7 linked regions of the Homo sapiens genome follow. The protein of the gene in region 6 purifies or fractionates together with the protein of the main gene of each other region. This does not show direct contact. Each region holds a gene or a part of one and is shown on either strand. Other genes may lie near its edges. The genes, in order: ANXA6, KCTD3, CLN5, CAD, EFEMP1, KCTD7 and CPNE3.

Region 1 (4,458 bases), on a different chromosome or scaffold from region 6:
CCATTGAAGCTCTCTCTATGCTCCTCTTACTGTTTTGTTTGTTTGTTTGTTTGTTTGTTTGTTTCTGAGACAGTGTCTCACTCTTGTCCAGGCTGGAGTGCAGTGGTACGATCTCAGCTCACTACAACCTCTGCCTTCCAGACTCAAGCAATTCTCCTGCCTCAGCTTCCTGAGCAGCTGGGAGTACAGGTACCCACCACTACGCCTGGCTAATTTTTGTATTTTTAGTAGAGATGGGGTTTTGCCATGTTGGCCAGGCTGGTCTTGAACTGGCCTCAAGGGCTGCCTTGGCCTCCCAAAATGCTACGATTACACACATGAGCCACCATGCCCGGCCCTCTCACTGTTATAAACCTCTTCTCTCTTCATGTATAATTTCCACACTTGATTTTCCTTATAATTTTACCATAGCTTTGTAACTCTAAGCAATACACTTAGATTTACACATTTTGGAACTCTGCAAATATACCACTGTGCATTTAGGTTTTTGCTGTACTATTCCTGATGGTCACTGGGTTGTTTCTAGCTTTTTCCTAATATAAGCAATACTGTTATAAGTTTTTTTTTTCTTTTTCTTTTTTTTTTGAAGAGGCAGGGTCTCACTCTGTTGTCCAGGCTAGAGTACAGTGGCGTGATCACATAGCACTGCGTTCACTGAAGCCTCAAACCCAGGGGCCCTGTGCTCAAGAAATCCTCCTGCCTCAGCCTCCCGAGTAGTTAGGACTACAGGTATGTGCCACAGTCCCTGGCTAGTTCTATTTGTTATTTTTGTAGAGACAAGGGTCTTACTATGTTGCCCAGGCTGGTCTTGAACTTTGGGCCTCAAGTGATCCTCCCACTTTGGCCTCCCAGAGTGCTGGGATCATAGGTGTGAGCCACTGCATGCACTCAGCCTTGTGATGGGCATTCTTAATGAATTCATGCATACAGGCAAACATCTCTCTAGGGCTGAGCTGCCCAACCTCATTATGGCACACTGGTGGGCAGAGAATGGCCGACAGTCTACTTTGTCCTTTCGGAATGGCCAACCAGGGCCAGAAAGGCCCAAGCTCCTGTGTCTCGGGCCTCAGGCCTCTGGCAGCAAATAACTGCATTCATTTCCTCCAGTGCATCACAAAAATACCAGTTTCTTTGTGCGTCATATGTGTAAAAGCCTGGGAAGCTTTCTCAGAAACACACCCAGAGTGGAACTGTCACAGGGTGAGCATCATGAGTCTTAGCAGGCAAGGCCAAAGTGGTCTTGCCTACATACGCTGTATAAAAACATTCTGGTTAATACTTCTTCAAAGTCCGAGCCGCCAACCCATTTGGCTGGAGGGATCAGGTGCAGGCTGCCACCCTAAGTTCATCTGTTGACTCATGACGTCAGGCAGGTATGCAGGTGGCAGGACATGTGACCAGCAGCATTCCTGGCTCTACAGCTCACCTGCGACAGAGCACCTTCACCAGGGTCAGTCCTGTGGCCATCCCTGAAGGGCTCTCTTTGGCCACTGGATCCCAAGGACTTGTCAAAGACTCCCAATAGTCCTCTCCCCAAACCCCATTCACATCAGCCCCACCACGCACCTTCATAGCCTTGAAGAGCCTTTCAGCAAAATATTCCGGGGTGCTCCGGATACACTTCACTGTGAAGAGGGAGGAAGAGGTAGAGTTATTCTGGCTGCCTCAGAAGGGGGATGGGATGGCCTGACTCCCTCTTTGTTTCTATTCCTTGAGGGCCACCTAGCTCAATACAGGAAGAACCACCGTTCCTGATAGCTCACAGCCCCAGATCACCCCAGACCAACCCACTTTTACCGCACACCCAGGGAATAAACAGGAAATAATCTTGTTGAAATAATCCTTTTGAAGTCCATCACAAAGACCGCCTTTATCTTTCTAGTCCTTTTGGTTTTAACAGGGAATTGAGCTGGGGTGGGGGTAGGGTCTGGGGCGAAGGAGGAAAAGGTGTTTTTTAGACCTGCTACACCAGAAAGGTACTGGCAGCTGAATCATTGTGAATCCCACTGAATCACCGTGAGTCCCACTGGCTGACTACTTCAAACAGGGAGGGCAGGGGATGGCTCTGGGAGGGACGATAAAGGAGCTGCAGGTTTCCCCCAAGAAATACAAACACACAACATATCCCTGACTCAGACATGCTAACTGCTGGAATGCCAGAATTGGAAGGGCTTCTGGGGAGGCAATTAAGGCAGTCCATCCTTCCTGCCCCCACACCCTGCACCCCACTTAACAGATGAGGAAACTGAGGTCCAGCAAGCAGAAGTGACTTGCTCCAAGCCCATGTGGGAGAAGCCCTGGTTTGAATCTTGGCTCCACCACTGACTAGCCAGTTCCTCACATCCTCACGTTCTCAGTACCCCCAACTCATTACAAAACTACCCCTCAGGAAATGATCAGCCTGGTGAGACTCAGTTTCCTCATCTGTGAAATAGAGATCATGGCAGTGGCCACTGCTGGGTCTTTTTTAAAGATTACACACTCAGCACAGTGCCTGGCATGCACTAGATGCTCAACAAAAGTCAACTATTATGATCATCATTATCCTCAACCCAAGTTCAGAGCTCTTTGTCCCCCTGCCAGTGGTGGAGAAGGGAGCTGGAGGAAGTCAGTACCTGAGGCTCAAACCCCCTTCCCGTCCCCAGCCTCAGCCATGCTGCCCTGGAGAAACCTTTAGAATTCACGGCCCACATGGTTTTCTCCTTCCCAATTCTATACCATGTAATTCCCCTTTCCATTCTCAGCCCCTTGTTCCTAGGCCAGTGTTCCAGAATCCCCTAAAGCCCCCAGGAATGCAACGTCAGGACATACCTACGGCCAGCATTAGCTTCTCAAAGTCCCCAGACAGCTCCCCTCGGATGCTGGCTTCAATCGGCTTCCCTGTGGTCTTCAGATACTCATCGAACACTGCGTCAGACAGAGAGACAGGGAGGTTTGAGAGTGCCTCTGTACCCCCGAGAAGAAATGAGGACTTCAAGAGCAGGGGGGCACAGTGGCCAGGACGACTGTCCACCATGAAGCTAGGGCTGGTGCTATGATGGAGGCGACTGGGAGGTCACGCACATCACCAGCGCTGTGCAGATGAGCTTCATAGCTGGTGAGAGACTGTGTCTCATCCCCTAACATGGAGACAGGACTGGCACTGAGATGGAAGGCCAAGCATCCTGTTAATGACTTTGCTGAGGGACTATACAAACTGCTGTCTGATATTAGGTTGGTGCAAAAGTAATTGCGGTTTTTGCCATTCCTTTAAAAACGGCAAAAACCGCAGTTACTTTTGCACCAACCTAATAAACTCAGGACTAAAGTTTGGGTTGGGAATGAAGTAGGTATCATGTTCCATTAGTGGTAAAGAAAAGAAAAGAGATAAAGAAAGGCATTATTGGCATCAACCCAAGGGAGCAGCTTCAGGTCTTCTCTGGAGCTTACCCAACCGAAGATGCTGCTTGCTGCGATTTCCCAAGATGTAAATGAACTGGGCTTCATCTGTTCCCCATTTCAGTTCCCCTGCCTCGTATAGGTCCTGAAGGGGAAGAGGTGGCACTTGACTGAAAGAGGAAACCTCAGGAGACAGGACACACTGACCAAGCCACTCAGAACTGCTGCCTGATCCCTGAACACACGAGTAATTGGTAGCCTGAAGACCTTTGCAAATAAAACAGTCATGCATCATTTAATGATGGGGATACATTCTGAGAACTGCCATTGTTAGGCGACTTTGCCATTGTGTGATCATAGAGCACTCGCACACACCTAGATGGCATAGCCTACTACACACCCAGACTCCGTGGTATAGCCTATTGCTCCTAGGCGGCACACCTACCTGTTCAGCGTGTTATCTTACCGAATACTGTAGGCAACTGCAACACAATGGCAAGAATTTGTGTATCCAAACATAAATAATCATAGAAAAGGCACAGTGAAAATATGGGGTTATAATCTTATAGGACTAGCATCACATATCTGGTCCATAATCTTATGGGACTAGCATCATATATGTGGTCCATCATTAACCAAAACACCATTATGTGGTACATGACTATACCTATATGCCTTTCTTCCTTTCTTTCTGGAGAAACTCCTACTCAACCTTCAAGGCCCAGATTAAGTATTCCATTTTTTTCTCAAAGTACTTCCCGATGCCCCCAGGCACAGTTCTATTTCCCTCCTTTCCTCCCTCTCCTAGGCTCCCATAGCTTTCTACTTCTTTATCACTTTGATCTACTGTATATGATAATGATTTCTTCACCTGTCTATCTCCACACTATTGCATGAGCTCCTCAACAACAGGGACTATGTCATAGCATTCTCTGTATCAGCCCCTGTAGTGCTGCTGGCATGTACTGGGTACTCAAAACACCTGCAATGTACAGTATATTGATAGAGAAGGTGTTTGTGTGATTAATGTATGCCTGTCTCTCCCGGTACCACTTGATTTTGTTCATTAGTGATTTCTAA
Region 2 (4,458 bases), on a different chromosome or scaffold from region 6:
AGTTCCAATTTTCCACCTCAAATTATGTTTGTTTACTGGTCATGTTTGACTTCAGTATAAAACTGAATACAAATTTTAGACTTAGTAGAGATGAAATCCTTAGGCACTGCAGTTCTCAAAAAGAAATAAACCAGTTTAATTTGACCTAGTCACATAATAAACTAATGAATAAAAAGATAAAAAGTCAAGAATGTATATAATTGGCCATGTACTAACTTGTTTTGGGTGTGAGGTAAACACTCAGAGCAGTAATAGCATCATTTGAAGGATCATGATACAGTTCAGTTACAAGAAGATCATTATCTTTCATTCGCAAGGGGAACTTCTGCATATCTAAAACATAAAAATTTTAAACAGCATTAAAATAAATAGCATATCTATTTAAAACTGAAAGGTAATGTTTTCTTGTTCTCATTTAAAAAATTACATTAAGCAGGAGCATTTTAAGTGACTGAACACTTACCTATGTAATATATTGATCCATTGTTACATCCAAGCAGAAGGAATGATCCAGCAGTGTCATAACTAGTTATAGGAACAACATCTTGAACCTGATGTAGTGAGAGTATTATCAGATGTTAGATAGTAATTATAATTTCTATTTTCTGGTCAATTTCCTCAAAACTTTGATTCTTCTGGTAAAGAGGCAACCAATATCCAATTTTAGTAGGGCTTAGGAAATAAACTTTCTTTAGGTGCACGCGTGCACACACATATACACAAACATGCTACAGAGGAGAACCATCAATATACTTCCTTCAAAATATTTTTTTTAAATTGTATTTCCCACAGCAGTACTTTCCTTTCTCAATTTCGATTGGTTGTCTCCTCTTTTTTTGCATGTGATCACTAGATTGCAGCCCACTAGAACTGGAAGGCCGAGTCTGACCAGGTCCCTCTCTTTTCCCTTTCTCATACAAGAGATTAAATGACCTGTCCAAAGTTACACAGTAAGCAAGTGACAGAATCAGAACTAGTAAACAAAGCAACTGATTTCCAGAAAGTACTTGCTCCCTTGATAATTTATTATTTCTCTGAAAAGGTGGTATTCTCTATTTTTCATTCTCCTTGCTAAAGGTTACTTCTTTTCTAGGAAATGGCAAGGGAAACAAAGTCTCATTTGTATTTATTTTTTTAAAGTATAGGAATAAAAAAATTAGTTTTTCCAGGAAAATCAATCTAGTTTACAAATTAATACCTTCCCATATTTGTGCTAAAAGAAACCTGCCGAGGCAGGCAGATCACCAGAGGTCAGGAATTCGAAATCAGCCTAGCTAACACGGTGAAACCCTGTCTCTACTAAATATACAAAATTAGCTGGGCGTAGTGGCGCATGCCAGTAATCCCGGCTGCTCGGGAGGCTGAGGCAGGAGAATTGCTCGAACCTGGGAGGCAGAGGTTGCGGTGAGCGGGGATTGTGCCACTGCACTCCAGCCTGGGCAACAGAGTGAGACTTGGTATCCAAAAAAAAAAAAAAATGTGTTTGCTAGGATAGTTGCAATACTATTTTACTAGAGTGATATTCTACTATTCATCAAAATGAATCTTCCCTGTTTACAGCCAGGCCAGACAAGCCTGTTAAGCTTCTTCACAGATGACATTTGAATTACTAAGACACCAAGTTTTGCATACAAGTCTAAAAGATTTCCAATAATTTAAAAGTTAAAAATGTTAAGGGACTTTTACTTTTCATATACTATACCTGGCTTTCATTTGAAAAGTTAAAATCTAAACATTATCTGCTTAACATTTAAGTACTTTTTATGTACCACATATTATCCAAGAAAACAAACAATGAACTAGAGATAAGGGATGTGAGGTATCCCCTTGCTCTCTAGGAGCTGGTAACTTGTGAGAAAGAAAAATAACAGACAATTATAGTGTGACAGGCACTAAAATAGACTACAATACAATCACAGGAGAGAGGGGAAGAACTGCCATCTCAGTGCTGGTGGGTGAAGAGCAAAGATCAAGGAAGGTTCACAGAGGAAGTGAAGCTTGAAGACTGAAGTCAACTATGAGTTAGGTAGGGCAAGGGGAAAGGGAATATCTGAAGAGCAAGTAAAAAAAGCACAGAATCTAGGTTCATTCTAATTAAAAACAGAAATAACTAAAACTTGGAAATAATCATTCCTCTAAGCTCTTCCTGTATATAATCCTAATTTCTGTACCCTCTCAATGTCATGCAGTTATGAGTTACACAAGAAATATCTCAAAGAACTCAATCATCATGCCCTATCCTGAGGTCAGGCTTTTAATTAAAGCCAATGCCAAAACATTTTATACCAGGAAAACATTGAGTACTTTTCAGTGATATCAGTAAAGATGTCTAAAGGATGGAGGGGAGACTGCTTTACACACCACTAACCAATTTTCTTACTCAAGTTAGCTAAATCATTTTAGTTCTAGCACTAAAGGAAAGGGCTTCAACTCCTGCCCCAGATTCTTCATGGCAGGAAAATGGGGACAGATAAGGCCATGAGATTCTTCTCCCTTTGGATACATTCTTTTTTTTTTTTTTTTTTCAATGAAAGAGCAGCAGGAGCCTAGCGCTTCCCAAGGCACAAAGGCAAACATTTTTACCATTTATTCTCTGGGAGGATGGGCTCTAGGATTAAAGCCTTGCTACTTCTCCTTCTGTAACCTTTAATCATGATCTGCCTTTCTTTCCATGTCTACCCCTCCATACGGGAAAACAGAGAAAGCAGAGGATAAGCAGAGTTACAGTGAGTTACAACTGCTGAGTTCTTCTCTCCCAGCACAAGCAAGGAAGCAGCCACTGTGTGGCCTCCTCTTCTTCGTCCTAACAACTTCATGGCAAGAATCCAAGAAACCATACTGATTAGTATGCATGGTTCAGTCATGTGGTCACAAATATAAAATGGAAGTGGATTTTTCTCTTATAAGGTAGCACACAGTGATTACCACTAATTTCTACATGTAAATTTAAATTTACAGTTTTAAAATACCAGTCTATCTTCCCATATAAGGCCCCTAGAATCTTTTAACTACAATCTCTATACCTGTAAACTTATCATTATTTTTTACAGGATGTTTTAACCTTCGTCCATTACTTTTTAAATAATCACTTATCTAAATTTACCATCGTATTTACCAACATCTTTCCTAATCACTGCTTAATGCATTCCATTTCTTCCCCTTCAAATATAACGTTCTTCTCAAAAGGCATTTTTCTTTAGTAGTCCTTTCAAAAATTCTCTCTGAAAAAAAACCCTTCTCATTCAGGTTTGAATGATAGTTTTGCTGTGTATGAAAACCTAGGCTGAAAGTTACTTTCTCTACCATTTGGAGAATGCCCGTTGTCGTCTTCTGGTGTCTACTACTGGTGATGAGAAATCTGATCAAAGTCTAATGACAGGCAAACTGTCACTATTCTATGAATACTTTTTATCATAATTTATCTTTTATTATAGCACATTTAAACATTCAGGCTGCCAAGACTTGGTACATTTCTTTAATCAATAAATTCATGCCCATTTTCATTTCTCCAAAATGTTAGCAGTTGTTATCTTTTTCAATATGGCTCCTCTAGTCTGTTCCTATCTGAAATGCTTTCTCACTTTTTCCTTCTTTTTCATATTTTCTATCTCACTCTTGGCTCAACTGGAAATGATTTTCTCAGACGTGTCTGTCAATTTACTAATTTTCTTTTAGCTGCGCTTCTATTTAACCATTAAATAAAATTAAAAATTTTTTTTCAATGACCTTTTAATTTTCAGTATTTTATTTCCCTCCATTTTCTGATTTGTCCTATTCCTTCAATACAGCAGCTTTCTAATTGTTCCATTATTTCCAATTTGGGGATTGCAAATTTTTTCTTGTTTAATGACTTTTCGTTATTTGTTTCCATGTGAAGTTTATAAGTTTTGGGAGGTTATTTTAGCAGAAATTACTCTTTCTACAGGATTCTTGTGTGCTCTCTTCTGAGAAAGTGTTCTAACTGGTGTCATATCTGTATCTAGAAATGTCAATAGTCCTAGATCAGTTTCTCAAATTGGAGTTCTCATAGAACAAAGGCAAGTCTTTGTGCTTCAATTCACTCCTAATTTGAATATGTTGGTTTCAATTTCTAATGGTTTCCTCTTGCATCTCCTTTTCCCATTCCAAGACACCAAACACACATCAAACTTTCTTGTTCCAAGATTACTGGGCAAACTTTTCCCAGTCTTCTCAGGGACTGAGAAACTTAAAACTTCAGATTTTTGTAGGAGGCTCAATTTCTACTGTCCCATGAAATCATGCCTCCTACTTTTGCTAAAATCCCAGATCCCAGAGCCTTTACTTTGGTATGTGGTATGAAAGTGTGTATAAACAAACTAGTCAATTAACTTAATACTTAGTATAAACAATATACATTGTTTCAATATTTGTATCTAGTATTTCTATATATAAATTTAGAAAGTCTAAATCTAAGTAAGTATCTCATATTTCTTACTA
Region 3 (3,537 bases), on a different chromosome or scaffold from region 6:
AGATGGAGTAGATATCAGATAAAACAATTCACGTTTAATATGTAAATGTACCAATTATGTGATTCAGTTTCAACTTTCAAGTACTTCCTGAGAGGTTAGTACATTATTATTGAGCTCTCACAGAAAGCTTAATCATAGATATAATTAACCTGATCCAAATGAGTAAAGTGGACCTTAGAAAGGCTAAGTGATCTTTCTCTGGCTATCCAGCTAGTAGTAATGAAGTCAGGTCTTGAACCCCGGTTCTGCTGACTGAATTGGATGCACTATAGTACAGGCTTTTAGCACCGAAGTGTGGTCCTCAGACCAGTGCCTGCCAACCAGATGTTACTGGTCTGTGAGGAAATAAGTACAGATACTGACAGGAAGCTTTTATAAACAATTTATTGGAGTGTTTTTGTTTCTGTTGGGTCTAATTAAAAAAATTGGAGCTTGTATTTTATGTGTCTTTGGTCTTATTTTGTCTAGGAATTCATTTTTGCTGGGTTTTTTTTTTTCAACTGTAGTCCCACAACAGTCTGAAAATAACCCAGTCACCAGATATCTTCCTCAAATACAGAGGGAGAACTTTCTTTCACGCCTCCTTTAGCCTGTCGACTCCTTATAATAATGCCTAAATATTCCAAATTAATACTGCCTCTTTAACCTGCTAATTGTTTTCACAATGTTACAAGAAAACTTGGATCTGTGCATTATCACCATCTAGTGGCTAAACTCAGGCAACACGAACTTCTACCAAACTCAGGAAATTGCTCTGGAAAAACTACAGGATTTTGGATTTCCAGAACTGCCTTGAAGAGACAAAGATTCTTGTACCAAGTTTTGGTCAACTGCAAATCAAAGAACTTGGTTATGCAGGGAAAACAAATGAGGATATCTGTACCTGGAACTTTTAAACAAGATTCTAATAGTTATGTGAAAAAAGCATTCAAGATTTTTGAGTAGGCACAGTGGCTTACGCCTGTAATCCTATCACTTTGCGAAACTGAGGTGGTGGAAGGATCACTGAAGGTCGGGAGTTCAAGACCAGCCTGGCCAATGTGGTGAAACCCCGTTTCTCCTAAAATTAAAAAAAAAAAAAAAAAGCTAGGGGTGGTGGTCCATGCCTGTAATCCCAGCTACACGTGAGGCTAAGGCAGGAGAATCACTTGAACCCAGGAGGCAGAGGTTGCAGTGAGCTGAGATGGCGCCACTGCACTCCAGCCTGGGCGACAGAGCGAGACTCCGTCTCAAAAAAAAAGCATTCAAGATTTTTCATTGTTCCTAAGAATCTTAATTAAATGAAGACAGAAAGCATCATAAAGTCAGGTAACTACAGCACAGACAGCATTAACATTTACAAAAGTATTTCTTAAGAATTAAACCTGTCAGCTCTACTTACAAGATGTAGAGCTTTCAGGTGAAGATGATTCAAGAACATGCTTTCAAAATAGTAGTTGAGAAACCAAAACATAGCCACGCAGAAATCTGCCAATTAAGTTTTGCTGCCCTTTGAGCAATATGACTTAATGTGATTTACTTTAATTATAACTTAAGTACAACTTAAATGCAGTTTCTATTTTGCTATTGTTATAGATGTAGGCTGGGTGCGGTGGCTTATGCCTGTAATCCTAACACATACTTTGGGAGGCCAAGGTGGACGGATCACTTGAGGTCAGGAGTTCGAGACCAGCCTGGCCAACATGGTGAAACCCCGTCTCTACTGAAAATACAAAAATTAGCTGGTTGTGGTGGAGCATGCCTGTAGTCCCAGCTACTTGGGAGGCTGAGGCAGGAGAATCACTTGAATCCAGGAGGTGGAGGTTCCCACGAGCCAAGATCGCACCACTGCACTCCAGCCTGGCAACAGAGTGAGACTCCGTCTCAAAAAAATGTTGTAGATGTATAAAATTTATACATTTTTAGTCTGACTAGGGCTTTAGAGTGAATATATCTCCTCATTAATCTGGCACAAAATTAGTTAAGTAAGTATACCCACAAAGTGTCATCTAATATATTGTTGCATGTAGAGGAAAACACAGTGAAGAAACCTACTAACTTTATTTGGAACCCTCAATATTGGTGGCTCCTTAAAAATTGGAGAAAAAAATCAAGTCTTAGGAAGTCTTATCCAGTTTTATGGTCTGCTGTGGTGGCACTTAATGAATTACCTGGAATTATAGTTCCTGTAAGATGTTTTATTTTTTAAATAGTTGGCAGGCTATACAAAGAGTGATGTTCCAAAACTACACACATGCTTTTTCCCTGTTCACAAAGGCAAACAGGCTGGCCAAAGTGTTTCCAGCATCTTCGTCATATTTACCCTTTATTATCCAAGTGGTTTCCTGCTCTTCAAACCTTCCTTTCAAAATTTTGTCTCCTACTTAAAACAAGTTAGGATTATTTATCCTTTTATTGGACTGATTATTCTAAGGATAAGCTCTTACTTCACTTTCGGAGTAAAAGGCTTTGTGCCCTTTTTAAAGTTGGGTGTCAGCAAGCAGCTGGAATTTTCCTGCCTGGTAAAATTAAAACCAGCCCCACAAACTGGGGTTGGAGTCTGTGCAAAGCTCATTACTATCTATGTGTGGGGTAGAAATTATAGTGTGTTAAAGGACCTAGTGTAAAAAAAAAAAATTTTAAAGGACCTAGTGGAGGCTTGAACCTTCTTCACATGAACGTCTTCCTTTCAGCCTAAAGTTCTTAAAATGCACTAAATTGACTTAATCTTCAATCATACCTATTTTTTCTGATATGGTTACAACAGCCCAAATTACCAAGATAAGTTGAAAGCCAGTAAAACAATGAAAATAATTTCAATAGTTGAAAAACTATTCTAATTTATATAAAGACATTTATCTCTAAAAAGACTGGTTGGGTTCAAGGACCCTTAAAGACTGATTCTATGTCTAAATAATCTGTTTTATAAGTTCTCATTCTGAATGCAGAAAGAACCTATTATTTTCTGTATAAAAATTTAAAAATTTATATTTCATGGTAGGTTTTAAATTTCCTATTTCTTTAGGCATCAGAGCTTATTTCAAGAATAGATTCCATGAGCCTAACCTTGTATCTTCAAAAAGGCGAGTCTATCATAAACATTGTTTAATATTAAATATTATATCCATCAAATATGGATTTGAAACATTTTTAAGTTTAAAGTCAAATGTTTGTGTAGTTTTTAAAAAGTAAAATACAACAGCATTAGTAACTTTTTATTCTCAAAGTGATAAAAGCATTTAACATATACTTTACAGTATAAACAAATTAAGTACTATGCATTTTGCTTATAAAGTGACAAAGTATTTTAAGCATTATATAATTCAATTTGTACAAAAAGTAAATTTCCAAATACAAGCTTTGGTTAGTAGAACTGATTATGTACTGTCAAATCCATTTTTCCAAAGTTGTTCAAGGAAAAACAACAACTTGACTAGCACAGGTAATTCTTGTACAATCAGAGCTTTTTACTATTTAGAAGGAGGGGATATATTACTATAATTGCTGTTAATTTTCGAATCTAGATAAGCCTTTTTTCTTCTCATATGTTGCTGTAGG
Region 4 (4,458 bases), on a different chromosome or scaffold from region 6:
GATGGTGTGGTGGCAGCCATCGCCATCTCTGAGCATGTGGAGAATGCAGGTGTGCATTCAGGTGATGCGACGCTGGTGACCCCCCCACAAGATATCACTGCCAAAACCCTGGAGCGGATCAAAGCCATTGTGCATGCTGTGGGCCAGGAGCTACAGGTCACAGGACCCTTCAATCTGCAGCTCATTGCCAAGGTAATAAGGCTAAAGGAAAGAACTAAAGGGCCACAGCTCTTGCATGTTCTGTGCTGGCCACAGTGCCATGAAGCCCTGCACTGTCTCCTGCCTTCATCCAAGTAGGCAGGGAAGCTGGAGGGAAAGGGCTGTAGCTAGAGCTCATGGTGTTGGGGCTTATGACAGTCAGTGACCCTGAACCCTGCTCAGTCTGATCCCCCAGAGCTGAGGACGGAGAGGAAGAGTCTAGGCCTATAGATAGTGTCAGCAAGGCCAACCTGCAGAAGGCCTGACCAGTCTTCTCTGCCCCAGGATGACCAGCTGAAAGTTATTGAATGCAACGTACGTGTCTCTCGCTCCTTCCCCTTCGTTTCCAAGACACTGGGTGTGGACCTAGTAGCCTTGGCCACGCGGGTCATCATGGGGGAAGAAGTGGAACCTGTGGGGCTAATGACTGGTTCTGGAGTCGTGGGAGTAAAGGTAAGGAATATCGAAACCCTTGGGGTTAGCAGAAAAATAGCGGGAGAGAGTTCACTCACCACACAGAGTTGTCAGTATGTAAACCAGGCACTGACTGCAAGGCATTGCCGGATCGTGGGGGTAATGAGGTGGTCATTGTCCCTTAAGAGCTTACTTTATGGTAATGGGAGGGAAGAGAAGTTGGATCCCCAAAAAAGCTTTGGTATAGAACAGTCCGTGGTAAAACTACATATTCGACCTGTAAACAGAATGCTGCAGGAGTTCAAGAGACAGGAGGTGCTGCTTCCAAAAGGGGTGATCTGGGAAGGCTTGAGCGAAGGGGTGCTATTTGAATTGAGTTTTGAAGGATGGTTAAGGTTTTTTATTTGCAAGGGCACATCCTAAGCAGAAGCTGAGGGATGACCCCAAGTACGTTTGGAAAGCAGGAGGGCACACAGAGAGGGCAGGCTGACCCTGCCATTCAGATGGGATCAAGCACAGGGTACTGTGTCCGTCTCTGCTGGTGAGGGAGGAGGTCCTCTCACACCTTGGCCCTCTCTCTTCCCTCCCGCCCCTTTAGGTGCCTCAGTTCTCCTTCTCCCGCTTGGCGGGTGCTGACGTGGTGTTGGGTGTGGAAATGACCAGTACTGGGGAGGTGGCCGGCTTTGGGGAGAGCCGCTGTGAGGCATACCTCAAGGCCATGCTAAGCACTGGCTTTAAGATCCCCAAGAAGAATATCCTGCTGACCATTGGCAGCTATAAGGTATCAGAATCCAGGAGGGCTTCCCGAGGGCCGTGGCTCCCTGGGCCAGGGCTGACCTTGAAATGGAAGACAGGAAGAAAACAATTTCATCCTTCTGTTTGGTTTCAGAACAAAAGCGAGCTGCTCCCAACTGTGCGGCTACTGGAGAGCCTGGGCTACAGCCTCTATGCCAGTCTCGGCACAGCTGACTTCTACACTGAGCATGGCGTCAAGGTGCAGGAACTCTGGCAACCTACCCCACTGCTGCCCTTCCCCAAGGGGGTGAAAATACTGCACCAAAGAATTATCTGGGCTGGGCACGGTGGCATATACCTGTAGTCCCAGATACTCAGGAGGCTAAGGCAGGAGAATCTCTTGAGCCCAGGAGGTAGAGGCTGCAGTGAGCTGCGAGTGTGCAGTGAGTGCACCACTGCACTCCAGCTTGGGAAACAGTGAGATGCTGTCTCAAAAAAAAAAAAAACAAAGAATTATCTCCTATTCCCCTGCTTTTATTATTACCATTATACTAGTAAGCTATATTCCATGCAGAAAGCAGAATACACAGGAAGCAAAGAGAAAAGTCTCTTAAAATCTCTGTACCACTGTTCTGATATTTTTCCTTCCAGGATTTTCTCTGTGTACATGTGTGTGAGCTCATACTGCACCTAGTCCTTGGTAACCCATCTTACTTAGTGTAGATATCTTTCCTGCCAAGAAATACACTTTGCCAGTATCAAATAGAGGCAGCCCTCAGTGCCCACCCTATGGGTCCTCAGTCTCCTCATCATGGGCTCCTGGGCCAGCTCCTCTCCCTTAAGGCTAGCCTTCCTGACCGCTGCCAGACAGCTTGGCCCTGACCTTGACTCCGGGTTGGCAGGTAACAGCTGTGGACTGGCACTTTGAGGAGGCTGTGGATGGTGAGTGCCCACCACAGCGGAGCATCCTGGAGCAGCTAGCTGAGAAAAACTTTGAGCTGGTGATTAACCTGTCAATGCGTGGAGCTGGGGGCCGGCGTCTCTCTTCCTTTGTCACCAAGGGCTACCGCACCCGACGCTTGGCCGCTGACTTCTCCGTGCCCCTAATCATCGATATCAAGTGCACCAAACTCTTTGTGGAGGTAACTGAGACCCATGTGCTGGGAGGGAGACTGCCAGTGTTGATGGGAAGAAGAAAGAGGGAGGAGTGAGTATGGAACAGCCATGCTAGTAATAAAGCTTTGTGGCTACAGAGGGAGAGATGGTGGGTATAGAGTGTGCAGAGCCTGGTTTATGGGAAAACCACATCTCTCCCTACAACTCCCAGGATCACCCTTCCCTTAAAGCTGACTGCTTTCCACTTGCAGGCCCTAGGCCAGATCGGGCCAGCCCCTCCTTTGAAGGTGCATGTTGACTGTATGACCTCCCAAAAGCTTGTGCGACTGCCGGGTAAGTCTTTGGGGAGAACTTGGCTTCTGAACACTGGCAGCCCCTGGCATAGAGACCTGCAGTGTGGTGAAGGATGGCTGGGGGGCCCACTCTTTGTCCTGGACTGCACAGACTGTGAAGACCCCAGAATGTTTCTCACTCTTTCATTCCTTAATCCACAGTGTCCACAGTGGCCTTGTCTGAGGAATTTTTTTTTTTTTTTTTTTTTTGAGACAGAGTCTTACTCCATCGCCCAGGTTGGAGTGCAGTGGTGTGTGATATCGGCTCACTGCAACCTCCGCCTCCCAGGTTCAAGCGATTTTCCTGCCTCAGCCTCCCAAGTAGCTGGGATTACAGGTGTGTGCTACCACACCAGGCTAATTTTTGTGTTTTTAGTAGAGACGGGGTTTCACCATGTTGGTCAGGTTGGTCTCGAACTCCTGATCTCAGGTGATCTGCCCACCTCGGCCTCCCAAAGTGCTAGGATTACAGGCGTGAGCCACCATGTCCAGCTCACCCTTCCTATTTCTGAATCTTCCTGTAATCTTGCTGCTTCCATTTTCTCCCAGGATTGATTGATGTCCATGTGCACCTGCGGGAACCAGGTGGGACACATAAGGAGGACTTTGCTTCAGGCACAGCCGCTGCCCTGGCTGGGGGTATCACCATGGTGTGTGCCATGCCTAATACCCGGCCCCCCATCATTGACGCCCCTGCTCTGGCCCTGGCCCAGAAGGTGAGCCACTGCACTCTTCCTGGTATTGGAGACCCATATGCCCCTACCAGCCACCCTTGCTTCCCTGAGCCCTTTTCCTTCTGCCCCGCCCTATGGGCCCAGGCCACTGGTGCCAGGCTAGCCTGTGTGGGCATGGGTGCCAGTGAGCCTTACCTCTGTGTATCCTCTCCAGCTGGCAGAGGCTGGCGCCCGGTGCGACTTTGCGCTATTCCTTGGGGCCTCGTCTGAAAATGCAGGAACCTTGGGCACCGTGGCCGGGTCTGCAGCCGGGCTGAAGCTTTACCTCAATGAGACCTTCTCTGAGCTGCGGCTGGACAGCGTGGTCCAGTGGATGGAGGTAGGGAGTGTGCATGTGGCAGGAGGCCACCACCCAGTGTCTCCTGGCTTGTGGGCCCCTGCCTAAGTGGGCTGGTAGCAGTGAGGATTCAGGGGAGCTCCTGGGGACTCTGGGCTCTGATGAGCACAGTCAGAGATTCTGCACACTCCTTCATCAGTTCTTTCTGCTCCCAGCATTTCGAGACATGGCCCTCCCACCTCCCCATTGTGGCTCACGCAGAGCAGCAAACCGTGGCTGCTGTCCTCATGGTGGCTCAGCTCACTCAGCGCTCAGTGCACATATGTCACGTGGCACGGAAGGAGGAGGTAAGAGTACACCTGAGATCCTGCTGTCCCTGTTGCTTTCCCAGTAACACCAAAGGTCAGGGTAGTCCTTAGGGGCAGGAGACAGCAGGAGGAGAGTCTGGAGACAGCAGGAGGAGGGTCTCGAGCCAGCACCCTTGCAGGTCTACATCATCATTTTTTGAGCAGGGATGTTGGCCATTGGGACTTTGTGTAGGGCAAGGCATATGGGTGGTGCCTCTTCTGGATCTTCCCATTGTTCCCCAGATCCTGCTAATTAAAGCTGCAAAGGCACGGGGCTTGCCAGTGACCTGCGAGGTGGCTCCCCA
Region 5 (4,458 bases), on a different chromosome or scaffold from region 6:
TGCTAGGGGCTCAACCATCCTATTTGCCTGGGACAAAGGCATTTCCAGGAACATGGAGCTTTTGGTTTTGAAACTGGACAGTCCTGGTAGACAGAGATGGTGGAAACCCTAGGGTATGTTTTTTTCATATTTCTCAATGATACTTTATACAACATAAGCCAGGTACTGTACTCGATTTGGTTTTACAATCAACTTTATTGGACATTCGTACTGAGTTCATTTCTCGATGGCACAGTTTCTTTACCAAGTTAGTAGTCATGCCTGTAAGTCCTGACAGGGTTTATTAGTGGCTTAATTACCAGGTATGCAAAATGCCATGTGTTTTAATTTTTTTAAAGTTCAATTAAACAAACAAGTTTCTTCAATTAGGGCAATCAATGCTTTCTCTTTCTTGTCAGTTCCCAAATGACTTTTTTTTTTTAATACAGGAATGGAAGTCTTAGAAAGTTATATATGATTTTAAAAAATCCTTTCTCAACTTCATCTAGTGATTTCTAACTCCATCTCCTTTAGAAAGATTATATAGAGACTATTGCCAGGTACAGTGGCTCAGGCCTGTAACACCAGCACTTTGGGAGGCTGAGGTGGGCACATCATCTGAGGTCAGGAGCTCGAGACCAGCCTGGCCAACATGGTGAAACCCCATCTCTACTAAAAATACAAAAATTAGCAGGGTGTGGTGGTGCACGCCTGTAGTCACAGCTACTCGGGAGGCTGAGGCACAAGAATTGCTTAAACCCAGAAGGTGGAAGTTGCAGTGAGCCAAGATAGCACCTCTGCACTCCAGCCTGGGTGACAGCGTGAGACTCTGTCTCAAAAAAAAAGGAGAAAGAGACTATGCAATAAAGGTGTAGAAAACTAAAGTGAGCCATCAACAGATTATAATATATTCCCCATTCATTCAACTTCTTTTTGGTGTAGATGAGTATCTGTTGTCTTTGAGGCAGATGATATCTAATGGAAACAATTAATTTCGAAAACTCTATCTATACATGGCCCCAGGTATGTAACACTGAAATGATCTTCATTTTATAGATGCCAAGAATAATGTCAGTCATGGGAAACTCCCAGCGTTACTGGCTCCCACAGCATGATCCTCATTTAGCAAAAAATTACCTGAAAAAAACCTGCTCACTGTGACCTGATCTTTGAATGTTATGTTGTATTTCAAACTCCTTGTTTTTGTACAAAACTGAAAACACCCCCAAAAATACATGAAGGGGAATAAACATATCATGTTTTCATTAAACAGTTAAATGGACAGCTATTTAAAGGATATATTTATAAAATAGTGTACATTTAAAATATCTAGTGGTATTATTTAAATTATTTAGAAGCCATCTGTGACTGGTATAGTGCATTCAAAGGCACAATTGATTTGAAGACTGAAACACAGTACAGATTTCAGTTCTTACATTTAAAATGTCCTGAGTTTTAGGTTATATAATGATAAACTATACCTGCTAAAAAATATACATAGAAAAAAGAAATAATTTTTATGCAAATAAGACTCATCTGTAAGATTCATTTATTCTATCCAGTAGACCATAGGAAATGTGTCTGGATTACTGGGCATAAATATGCAACATTTAAAAGGGAGTGGAGATCTTTATTAAAACAGAAGACTCTTCAAACTCCATGATGATGTCAATAATATAGGTCCTTAGAGCACATTATTGTTCTAAACAGAGGTCCCCATACTTCCACATTGGTTATAAAATATTATTTTGTGCTGCTGGCCTGGAATGAGAATGTCATACATCTGCAGGCAATTAGAAGAAGCTGGACTGCATGTTTGATTAGCTCAATAAGAAATGGGCACAAGTGTGACTCGACTTATGTTAGTCAAATTCCCTAGACAGATTATCCTGTTGTTATCATATGAAATAACCCCCTTTTATCAACAATTAAGTAAATCCACATTTATGGGCACTTTGCAAAATTGTGAGGTGGGAAGAAATCCAACTTAAGCCCTAAGCCTTCCAAAAAACTTTTAACCCTGCTTTCAATGGTATAGACACCAATCCCAAATTTTAGAAACTGGCTGAATTACACAGATCAATTTGGGTTGGAAATAACCTGTGTGCACACAGTCAACAGGTATGTATTTAGCATATTCCATAAGCAAGGCACTTAATAGTCTGCTTATAACTAAAAAAAATTCCCAAAGAAGAAAGAACTATAAATGTTTTACTATGTGAAACGTAACTTACTTTGTTAGGTAGTCTAAATATTTTCTAGAAAAGTTAAATAGGATTTTATTTTCATTAATCACAGTACAGTTTCTACCGTAACCAATACATGTTGTAAGTCTTGAATATATTTTATTCTAGGACCTCTTCATTTAGTTCTGGGCATTGTTCTTGAATTCAACCATAAATGTCAATGACGGTCTACAAACTACTTTGGGAAATGACTCATTCATTTATCTGGTTTTTTTTTCTCCCAAGTACCATTAAAGTACACATCTAAAGTATTCAAAATAATTCAGTATATAAAAGTTGATACTTAAGAATTTTTCAGCAAAATTTTTTGATTTTGGGAAAAATACTACCAAACTTTCCAGTCTAGTTATATAACTAAATAACACAATTAAAAGTTGGTCTATCTTAAATAAACTCAAGATTTTTTTTATCAGTATTAACCCAAATACATGTATAAGAATAACCTCATCATTTTATCTCCTTGACATAATCCTTAAATTCAATATCAGAATATCAAGCAGATGCTGAAGCATTCATCATCAATACTGGAATTCTGACTCATGACAGTAACACGAAACAGATGCTAATACGATGCACCCTCTGAAAAGTGACACCATCACAACATGGGTTAGGTCTTGATGTGGGGTACTTAAAGCTTACAAACAAAATATGAAATAAATAAGAGTCAGAGCATGACAAGTTTCCTTCATTTTTTTTTTTTTTTTTTTTGAGACAGAGTCTCACTCTGTTGCCCAGGCTGGAGTGCAGTAGCATGATCTCGGCTCACTGCAACCTTCACCTCCCAGGTTCAAGCAATTCTCCTGCTTCAGCCTCTCTAGTATTTGAGACTACAGGCATGTGCCACCATTCATAGAGAATTTTTGTATTTTTAGTAGAGATGGGGTTTCGCCATGTTGGCCAGGCTGGTCTTGAACTCCCGACCTCAGGTGATCCACCCGCCTCATCTTCCCAAAGTGCTGGGATTACAGGCGTGAGCCACCGTGCCCAGCCCCTTGCTTCATTTTTAAGCCATTTAAACTCGAGTATCTTTTACACAGAAGATAAAACTAAACACGGGTGAATAAGGGGCAGCATCCCAGGGCACAAGAAAATGCATCTTTCATTTAATGTAGCAGCTCAGTGGTCTCTATTGAAACCCTTGGTGTTAAGGGAGGAAGGTGCTCTCTTCCTTACACATGACCAGTTAGAAAGTAAGAACTCCTGGACCCTTTCCATTGGCCCACGTGTGCCATACACGTATGTGGTGGTGACATGGAGTTCTGCACTATGGGATCTACCTAATCAGCCTCTGGCAGGGAGAAAGGAGTCTGGAGGCTCCTATGGCCCCATTTCAGTAACACAGTCTCCACACCAGGCTGCTCTGAAATGGTTTGCCAAGAAGAAAGGGAAACAATCTCATAGCACAGTTCAGTTAGCTAATATCCTACATGTCTTCAAAGCCCCAGATTCTTATCACTTTGCTAATACGAGCCTACAGCTGTTTCTAGAATACACAGTGATGTGTATGCTCTGTGAAAATAAACAGAAAACCCTAGGCAGATGATGCCATGGTGCAAGTGATATAAGTGAAACGTCGTCAAATGAGAGCTTAAAAGAGATATAAACGTGAGTGGGGGAGAATCCCTCCAAGGTAATGAGAAGCAGGAGCCCCATTTCTTTACTCCTGAATGAGGAAAATAAGTCTGTGGCAAGTTCGATGAAAAGAAACTTGAGAAACCAAAGGGGTACATCTGTAGAGTAGCTTGACAGCATAATTTCAAATTCCCAGTGAATAACCTGATGGTGACTTTTGCCAGCTGTGACTTTGGCACCCGCCTTCCTGGGTTGGAAGGTCAGCTCTGCACTTAGCACCTGTGTGACCTCTGGTTCTCAAACTTGGCCGCACATGAGGAACTGAAAAAAAAGCCGATGCCTGGAACCCACCTCAGAGACTGTGATTTAACTGGGCTGGGGTGTAGCTTCGCCATCGAGAAGTTTTAAAGGTTCCCAAGTGACTCTAAATATGGGCAGCTAGGGTTGGGAACCACTGATGAACTTTCTAAGCCACAGTTTCCCATTTGTAAAGCAATGATGACAACTACAGCAACTACCCTTTAGGAATATTGTGATGATTAAATATAATGCAGACAAAGCACTTAGCATGATGTCTGGCACGCGAGAAGTCCTTAATAAATTATCATCATCCTCACCACGAGGTGCACTTGGGCAAAAGCTTTCAATGGTTAGGAAAATA
Region 6 (3,291 bases):
TGCTTCAGTCTTTTTTTGTTGCTATAACATTAGCTTTTTTATTTTTAAGGAATTTTGTTATGGCGAGCATTGCACCATTGGTCCCATCTCCTGAAACTTTCACTTTGCTTTGACTCACTGATAACTACTGGCCCGTCTCAAGGCAAGATGAATCCAGTCCCTTGTCAAGTGAGAGGGATTTACTGACATTATGCACAACAATTCTATAAAGATGCACTTCCTTATGATCAGGGAGAAGCTTTCATCCTTTGGAGCCTTCCTTCCAGACCCAACCCTTCTTCTGTTCTGGGCCTGGCCATTTAGAGTTGAAAAGGGATCAAATGGGGAAAAGTCACTTCCACAGGGATAACCCCTTTATCTGGAGGCCGTTACCACAATCCACCACATCTAATTGCACTTTTCAGCCTGGCCTTGGTTTCTCATTAGAGAATGGCGAAACTAGGCCACTGAATTCCTTCACTCCATTTAGAAAGAGCTCTCAGCTTGCTGCCCAGTGTCACCTCTCTGCCTGTTCTACTGGCCCAGAGCCTTGTGTCCTACAGTGGCACAGAATACATTACTGTGAGGATCACAAAGGGAGTCAGAGAAACAGGGATTTCTCCAGCGAGAGAGAGGAACGGTGTTCTTACCCAGCATCCCTGTAATCCTAAGCAAGCCTTCAGGACCTGTTTTTGAGCAAACTTGCATTTGAGCAAACAAGTCTCTCAATGGCTTGCATGTATGGACTCTAAATAACCAAGCCCTGCCATGCTCCATGGGAGAAGGGGGAAGCAGAAGGGGTCAAGGCCACATTACTGAAAGCAATGGGCTTAATGAACTGCTCTCTGTTCACACAGACTTTTTCAATAGTCTGCCTCTCTGTCAAAAAATGAACACATATTAGGCAGTAGGTAACACCAATCAGAAGAACCAAAATGAAAGCCTTTTCTCTTAGAACAATACAAGAGCCATGTTTTGGGGCTAACCTCCAAGCAGGGACATCAGCTCCAGAAAAGAGACTATCCCTTTGTGTACGAGAACAATAGAGAGAGCGCATATCTCAGAACGTGAATGACTATCCTTTCCTCTTAGATCTCAGTATCCACCTCTTTTCCACCTCTAAAAGAGTACAACAGGAGTGCAAAACCACGCCCTGGAATCTTTGTTTACACATAGGGAACAGGAGATCACTGCCGTCCAGCCCCACGGAGGAATTCAGCCAAAGTCCCAGGGCTTGGTCTTCTCTTCCTCATATGAACACAGACTTCAGCTCCCCTTATACCCATCTTGTCTATCTGGTCCTGTAAGTCTGATACCAGTGAGGCTGTCCTCCCCAATTTATTTATTTATTTATTTATTTTTACGATGGTGTTGCCCAGGCTGGAGCACAGTGGCTAGCCACAGGCACGATCATAGTATACTACAGTCTTAATCTCCTGGGCTCAAGTGATCCTCCTGCCTCAGCCTCCAGAGTAGCTGGTACTACAGGTGTGTGCTCGAGTGGCCTGGACTACAGGCGTGTGCCCAAGTAGCTGGGACTACAGACATGTTCCTGGCTCGCATCAATTCTTTACACATTAAAAAAAAAAATCTCCCTTTACCCAGGAAGAGACAGGTACAATCATGATTAGAGAGAGACACCCTTAATGCAGCATGGAAATGTTACATTGTGATCAATGGTGCTACACAGTTCTTCCTTTAGGAGATGCATGTCCAGACCCTGACTAGTTGGCCTAGGCTGTAGACAGAGCAAGAAGGAAATGCAGTAGTAACAGATCCTTGGGGATCTTTTTCAATTTCTGAAATAGAGGAGTAAGTAAACCAAAATATACAGGAGTGAGGAGTAAAACAAAATATAAAGAAGTGAGTAAAACAAAAATAGAGGAGTGAGGAGTAAAACAAAAGGGAAGTTTTGTCTTCCTACGGCTCCTAGGATAGCTGTGTGTCTCACCCAGCCCTTCCTTTACCTTCTCAGAAGAGAGGCTCTCCTAGAAGGAGAATGTTACCAGGACAGAGGAACAGGGTTTAAAGAGAGGGGGTCCCCTTCCAAAGAGGTTCACCACAAACTGGATTCTAACACATGAGATAGCAGCCAAGGAGGTGTTCTGAGCCTCTAAAAAGGATGTTACATGTCAAAGATAACAGAAGATCTAGGCATCTTGCCTGCTTGACTTGGGGAATCTTCAAAAGAAGCCTCTGAAATTTGCATTCCAGCCCTGTGAGAAGATAACCCTGCAAGCAAGGAAGGTGGTGGAAGATAAGAGAAGCCGCGGCCCTAAGACAGGGCTGTAAACATTGTGGTTTTCTAAGGCCAACTGGGTGCATAGCTTTGGCAGCTATGGTTAAATCTCCAAAAGGTGGTGAAGAACATGTTCCGGAAGGAAAAGAAAAGTCTTTCCACATTTTGGGAATGTGGGCAACTATTCTTGGAGGAGAAGGGGTGCAGTGGGAGAGAAGATGCTCTTTCTTCTTCAGCCAGGGGCTATGGGGTGGCTGGTCAGGTAAATCCCCCATCATGTTCCGTGTTCACACCAATATACTGAGCACAAGGGAGGGACGCTTGAACAGGGTTGAGGAAGTGATTAGGCCTACATCGATTTGGTAACGTGGCTCTAAAATGGGCAGAAACTCTCTTGCAAGGTCAAGAAGGTGACAAAACTTCTCGGGACTTCCTGGTCAAGCCCTAGCTATCAGCCTCAAGGAAAGACTACCATGCCTTGAGGAAAGGCCAGGTGAGCGCTGGCTGGAGTGCCTGCAGGCCGCAAGCCCTGAGCCCAACCCTGAGGTGCAGTCAGGGAGATTGGAGCTACACCTCTGTCCCCTGGGAGCTGTGCCTCAGGATGCTGTTCTCACCTCGGCAGATTCTGGGGCAGTCAGCAGCCCCTTCAGGGATCTTACTCCCAGAGCCACCAAGCAAGGTGGACATCCTCCCTGATGGGACTCTCGCCTACCGGGGCTACTCACCACCATGTGATCTTGAACTCATAGATGGGGCGCTTGCAGTAGTAGTGGTTCACGAGGTGCTTGTCACACACCCCGATGCACTGGTGGTCCACGGTGAGACCCTGGGCCGAGAGGTCCGTGACCAGGCAGTGCAGCAGGTCATAAACATCAGCCACAGCCTCCCAGGGCCCAAAAGACACATCCACTTCACAGTGGTGCTCAAAAAGCTGCCCGTCACTCTCACTCCGCTCAAATCGCAGGGAGTTGAGGAGCGGACACTCATAGGGGGTGATGGGCATCTCCTCCTTGAAGACACAGACCTTGAGCTTGGCAAAGCGGGCCTTCCGCTGGACCGCACGCAGCCGGGCG
Region 7 (3,522 bases), on a different chromosome or scaffold from region 6:
CCAGACAATTTGATAGTGAGGCAGGAAAAGCTCAGAATTTGGAAACAGACCTAGAATCAGACACTTAGAAAGTATGTGACCAAACAGCTGAGTGTCTGCCAGAAGGTGACCACTATCAGCTCTGCCATCTGGCCTTCACCAAGGCAAAGCCATTGCGACTAGACCCACATTTGGTCACAGGGTTCCATGTGGAACTCTGTGGGCTTCTGAACTCATCTGTCTGCCCTAAAAAGTATGGTCCTCTGGTTTTTCAAATGCACAAATATAATCACATCATTCATTTGCTTAAATCAATTTAGTGGCATCCCATTACCCTAAGCCTCAGTCTGAACTCCCTTACCTGCCCCAAAAGGCCCTCAGGATGTAAACACCACCAACCACTCCACCTCATTTCTTTTACCACTTTCCCTCTTATACTTTATATTTCAGCAAACTCAAACTTCTGTCCACTCCTAGAACATTCAACTCTATACTTGCTGTTGGCCTGACAGCTTCATAAGTGCTTTTAACCTTCTTCACCTAGCTAACTTTCAGGTCTTAGCTTACATGGCACATCCTCAGGGAAGTGCTCCTTGCCTCTCAGATGGGTTAGGTCTCTCTCTACTGTATGTTGTTTCACGCACAGATCTCACATCTCTATAATTACTTGCTCAATGTTTTCTCTCCCCCACTAGACCATTATTTCTACAAAGGCAGCAATCGTGGCTGTCTTGGTTACCACTGGCAAAGTCCTGCCCAATGCCCATGACAAAAGCAATTAAAACATTTTTTTTAAAATTAGGTGGTTACACTATCCTTCTTAACATGATTGATAATCTCAGGCCATTCTAGCTATAAGCTAAGAATCTTTCCTTTACTGTACCCAGAAGAGTATCTTGGACCCACTCAATATCTTTTAAACAAATAAATCCCATAAAATAATATCCCCCAAATTGTTTAATTCAGTAAAATATGAAGTCAAAGGCCACCTAAAACACTATATTTTATTTTTAACTTTTCTATTGTTTTGGTCACATGTAAAGAATAAAAATGAAAACACACTACTCTGTCACATCAAGAAATAACTTTATCCAAAAGGAATTCAAATGTAAGATATATTTAGCATCAATTCATATATTAGTAACTTACACATGTATTGTCAAGTATGACATCCATAAAAGCACAAAACAGTTTCTAACACGTTCCATCAAACTTCTGGCGTACTTTATGTGTCATTTCCATGACTACTAACCACATATATAGAGACTAGGGGATACTTAGTGAAGACAGCTTTCCAGGAAGTTTACAAAATTGAAGAAAAAAAAAGTATGTCCAAATATGGCATAAGTAGCAATGGGGCCCTGAATTTACTTTGGAAAGATTGCCTAAGGCACCACTATAATGAACAGTTGTAAATCTCTGATCAGACTTCAAATTTTTCTGGTCTTAAAATTGCAATTCTAACCACAAGGTTAGGTGACTAGATTAGCTGGTATATTATTTCCTCTGTGCCAGCATCTGTAAGAAATATTACATCTATCCTGGGCACCGTCACTCCGATATATATTTGTAATAGATCTGATTATATGAGGTGTGAAAGTCAATATGGGTAATTTTTCTTTAAATGCATTTTAAGAACAAACAGCACTTAAATGAATGGTGGCACAACAGGGAAAAGGACTATTTTAATGTAAAACAATATTAAATCAGCGTATGATGAGGTTGAGTGCTGAAACTGTGAAAACTGATAATTTAGAAATTGTAAATGCTTTTATTCAAAACTGTAAAAAGGCACCAATTACCCTAGTTTGCTGGAATCACAGTTCTTATGAATAATAGCATCTACTGATGAACATGATCATGAATTAAATGTTTTAAATTTTAAAACAATTTTAAAATAGAATAATTCTGATAAAATCAGAATATAAAATAATGAAGACCAAATCCAATTGACAGTGATTACCTGTTATTTGGCTGAAGAAAACCAGGAATGCTCATAACCAGCAGTTCCCAAGCACCTTGTGCAGGTGACTCAGGGGCTGCTGTGGAGCTGGTTAAGGAGAAGGAGGATATGCCCAGTGACTGGGACCCTGCCACAGCATCAAACAGATAAGCTCACTTCTGTCTGTTTTACTGTACATTGAGAATATGTGTAAGTCATTTTTTAAAAGGCTTCTTGTGATTAAAAGAGAAAATTCTGAAAACCACAGCAACATATCTATGCTGTTTCCAAGCATACAAAGAGAATTAGAACATCTGAGACAACTATGGCTCCAAACAATCAGAAGAAGGGTTAGTTTTCTTTTCTCCTATTGATAATGTCAAAATGATGTGTCATCTATTGAGCCATACTATGGAGTAGCAGGCTACTAGTTAGATGCCTTCCCCAGTTAACAGCACATATCCAAAGGACAGCTAGCCAAGTGGGAAGGTGGTAGGTAAATGCTCATCTGGGCTAGGCAACCACCACAGCAAGCAGGTCCCCTCTCAGCCTGGCCTTGGCAATGAGCTGCTTCTGAGAAGCCACAGCTATCTGTGGTTGAGAGCTCACTCCCTTGAGGCATTGCAGAGAACAAGAGACATGGGCTGTGGGGCAGCTTTTCAATAAAACTGAGAGGCACATCAACATGGCACTGTATGTGTCCACTTAAGGATATATGATAAACATGCAATTTCAAAAGGTAAATTATTAAAGATAATTGGCCAATATATAGATATGCATAGTTTTTAGCACATAGGCCCTCAATAAAATATTAGGATCTATTCTGAAAATGTAATGTTCACTAAGTAATACGCTGTAAAAGGTAAAAGTCAGGAAAAGAAATTCAACTCTTAAAAAAAAAAAGCACATAAAATCCACCCTATCTTAATGCAGCAGTTGGAAAAGTTTTCTTTTTTCTTTCCTTTTTCTAAGTTGCAGTAGGTTTTATACCTAATAAGGTATGCTGTAGACATAGGAAATATCACATTATTAAATTGTAAAATGCAATTTTGATTAACAGATAACTGGTATCGTGAGTTTAAAAATCAGATGAAAATGGTTCTTAAAAAAAGGAGAAAATGACTAAGTGGATCTGTACAAATCAATATATGGGACCTTAGCAAGGAAAGTATAAAATTTTTTTTTAGTAAGCAGTTTTTCATTAGTTAGAAGGAAACGGAATTCTGAATTTCACCTTATATGTTTGGTCCTCTTATCTTTCCTGGACAAAACAGTCCTAACCGTTTTAACAAATCTCAATTAAAGTAATCTAATAATGTAGAATTCAGGACAACCTACCATCTGTGCATCTACAATATCCTGAAAGTCTTGCTCAGTTAATGAAAAAAAAAGCCAAATCTGACCATGTTTACAGTTTTCCACAATAAAATAAAATATCTAGAAAGGCAAATAAAAATGGCTTACTTACATGAGGTTATTTTTACTTGTTGATTGTACATTTAAAAAACTGAGTATGTGCCTTTTCCTGCTCATTCAGTACTTTTCATAAAGTCCCAAGTTGAGTGCATGCTGTTTTGTAAACCACAGTGTCTAAACTGTAG

What was found.
Region 1: the proteins of KCTD7 (region 6) and ANXA6 purify together in Homo sapiens (affinity purification with mass spectrometry, with the first as the bait; one large-scale study listed by BioGRID). This does not show direct contact.
Region 2: the proteins of KCTD7 (region 6) and KCTD3 purify together in Homo sapiens (affinity purification with mass spectrometry; one large-scale study listed by BioGRID and IntAct). This does not show direct contact.
Region 3: the proteins of KCTD7 (region 6) and CLN5 purify together in Homo sapiens (affinity purification with western blotting; one study listed by BioGRID). This does not show direct contact.
Region 4: the proteins of KCTD7 (region 6) and CAD purify together in Homo sapiens (affinity purification with mass spectrometry, with the first as the bait; one large-scale study listed by BioGRID). This does not show direct contact.
Region 5: the proteins of KCTD7 (region 6) and EFEMP1 purify together in Homo sapiens (affinity purification with mass spectrometry, with the first as the bait; one large-scale study listed by BioGRID). This does not show direct contact.
Region 7: the proteins of KCTD7 (region 6) and CPNE3 purify together in Homo sapiens (affinity purification with mass spectrometry, with the first as the bait; one large-scale study listed by BioGRID). This does not show direct contact.

What each region holds. Positions count from the first base shown.
Region 1 is NC_000005.10:151,129,665-151,134,122, forward strand, and holds part of ANXA6 (annexin A6), read right to left. Parts: intron 3,524-4,458; coding exon 3,430-3,523; intron 2,908-3,429; coding exon 2,812-2,907; intron 1,626-2,811; coding exon 1,567-1,625; intron 1-1,566. UniProt on the Homo sapiens protein: May associate with CD21. May regulate the release of Ca(2+) from intracellular stores.
Region 2 is NC_000001.11:215,597,960-215,602,417, reverse strand, and holds part of KCTD3 (BTB/POZ domain-containing protein KCTD3), read right to left. Parts: intron 552-4,458; coding exon 464-551; intron 334-463; coding exon 217-333; intron 1-216. UniProt on the Homo sapiens protein: Accessory subunit of potassium/sodium hyperpolarization-activated cyclic nucleotide-gated channel 3 (HCN3) up-regulating its cell-surface expression and current density without affecting its voltage dependence and kinetics.
Region 3 is NC_000013.11:77,002,081-77,005,617, forward strand, and holds the end of CLN5 (bis(monoacylglycero)phosphate synthase CLN5), read left to right. Parts: 3' UTR 1-3,037; downstream 3,038-3,537. UniProt on the Homo sapiens protein: Exhibits palmitoyl protein thioesterase (S-depalmitoylation) activity in vitro and most likely plays a role in protein S-depalmitoylation.
Region 4 is NC_000002.12:27,234,035-27,238,492, forward strand, and holds part of CAD (multifunctional protein CAD), read left to right. Parts: coding exon 1-192; intron 193-483; coding exon 484-651; intron 652-1,210; coding exon 1,211-1,393; intron 1,394-1,501; coding exon 1,502-1,606; intron 1,607-2,249; coding exon 2,250-2,489; intron 2,490-2,714; coding exon 2,715-2,796; intron 2,797-3,344; coding exon 3,345-3,511; intron 3,512-3,683; coding exon 3,684-3,848; intron 3,849-4,021; coding exon 4,022-4,153; intron 4,154-4,396; coding exon 4,397-4,458. UniProt on the Homo sapiens protein: Multifunctional protein that encodes the first 3 enzymatic activities of the de novo pyrimidine pathway: carbamoylphosphate synthetase (CPSase; EC 6.3.5.5), aspartate transcarbamylase (ATCase; EC 2.1.3.2) and dihydroorotase (DHOase; EC 3.5.2.3).
Region 5 is NC_000002.12:55,913,195-55,917,652, forward strand, and holds part of EFEMP1 (EGF-containing fibulin-like extracellular matrix protein 1 precursor), read right to left. Parts: intron 1-4,458. UniProt on the Homo sapiens protein: Binds EGFR, the EGF receptor, inducing EGFR autophosphorylation and the activation of downstream signaling pathways. May play a role in cell adhesion and migration. May function as a negative regulator of chondrocyte differentiation.
Region 6 is NC_000007.14:66,638,881-66,642,171, reverse strand, and holds part of KCTD7 (BTB/POZ domain-containing protein KCTD7), read right to left. Parts: coding exon 2,940-3,291; 3' UTR 1,779-2,939; coding exon of another isoform or gene 1,778-1,778; 3' UTR 1-1,777. UniProt on the Homo sapiens protein: May be involved in the control of excitability of cortical neurons.
Region 7 is NC_000008.11:86,558,940-86,562,461, reverse strand, and holds the end of CPNE3 (copine-3), read right to left. Parts: 3' UTR 964-3,522; downstream 1-963. UniProt on the Homo sapiens protein: Calcium-dependent phospholipid-binding protein that plays a role in ERBB2-mediated tumor cell migration in response to growth factor heregulin stimulation.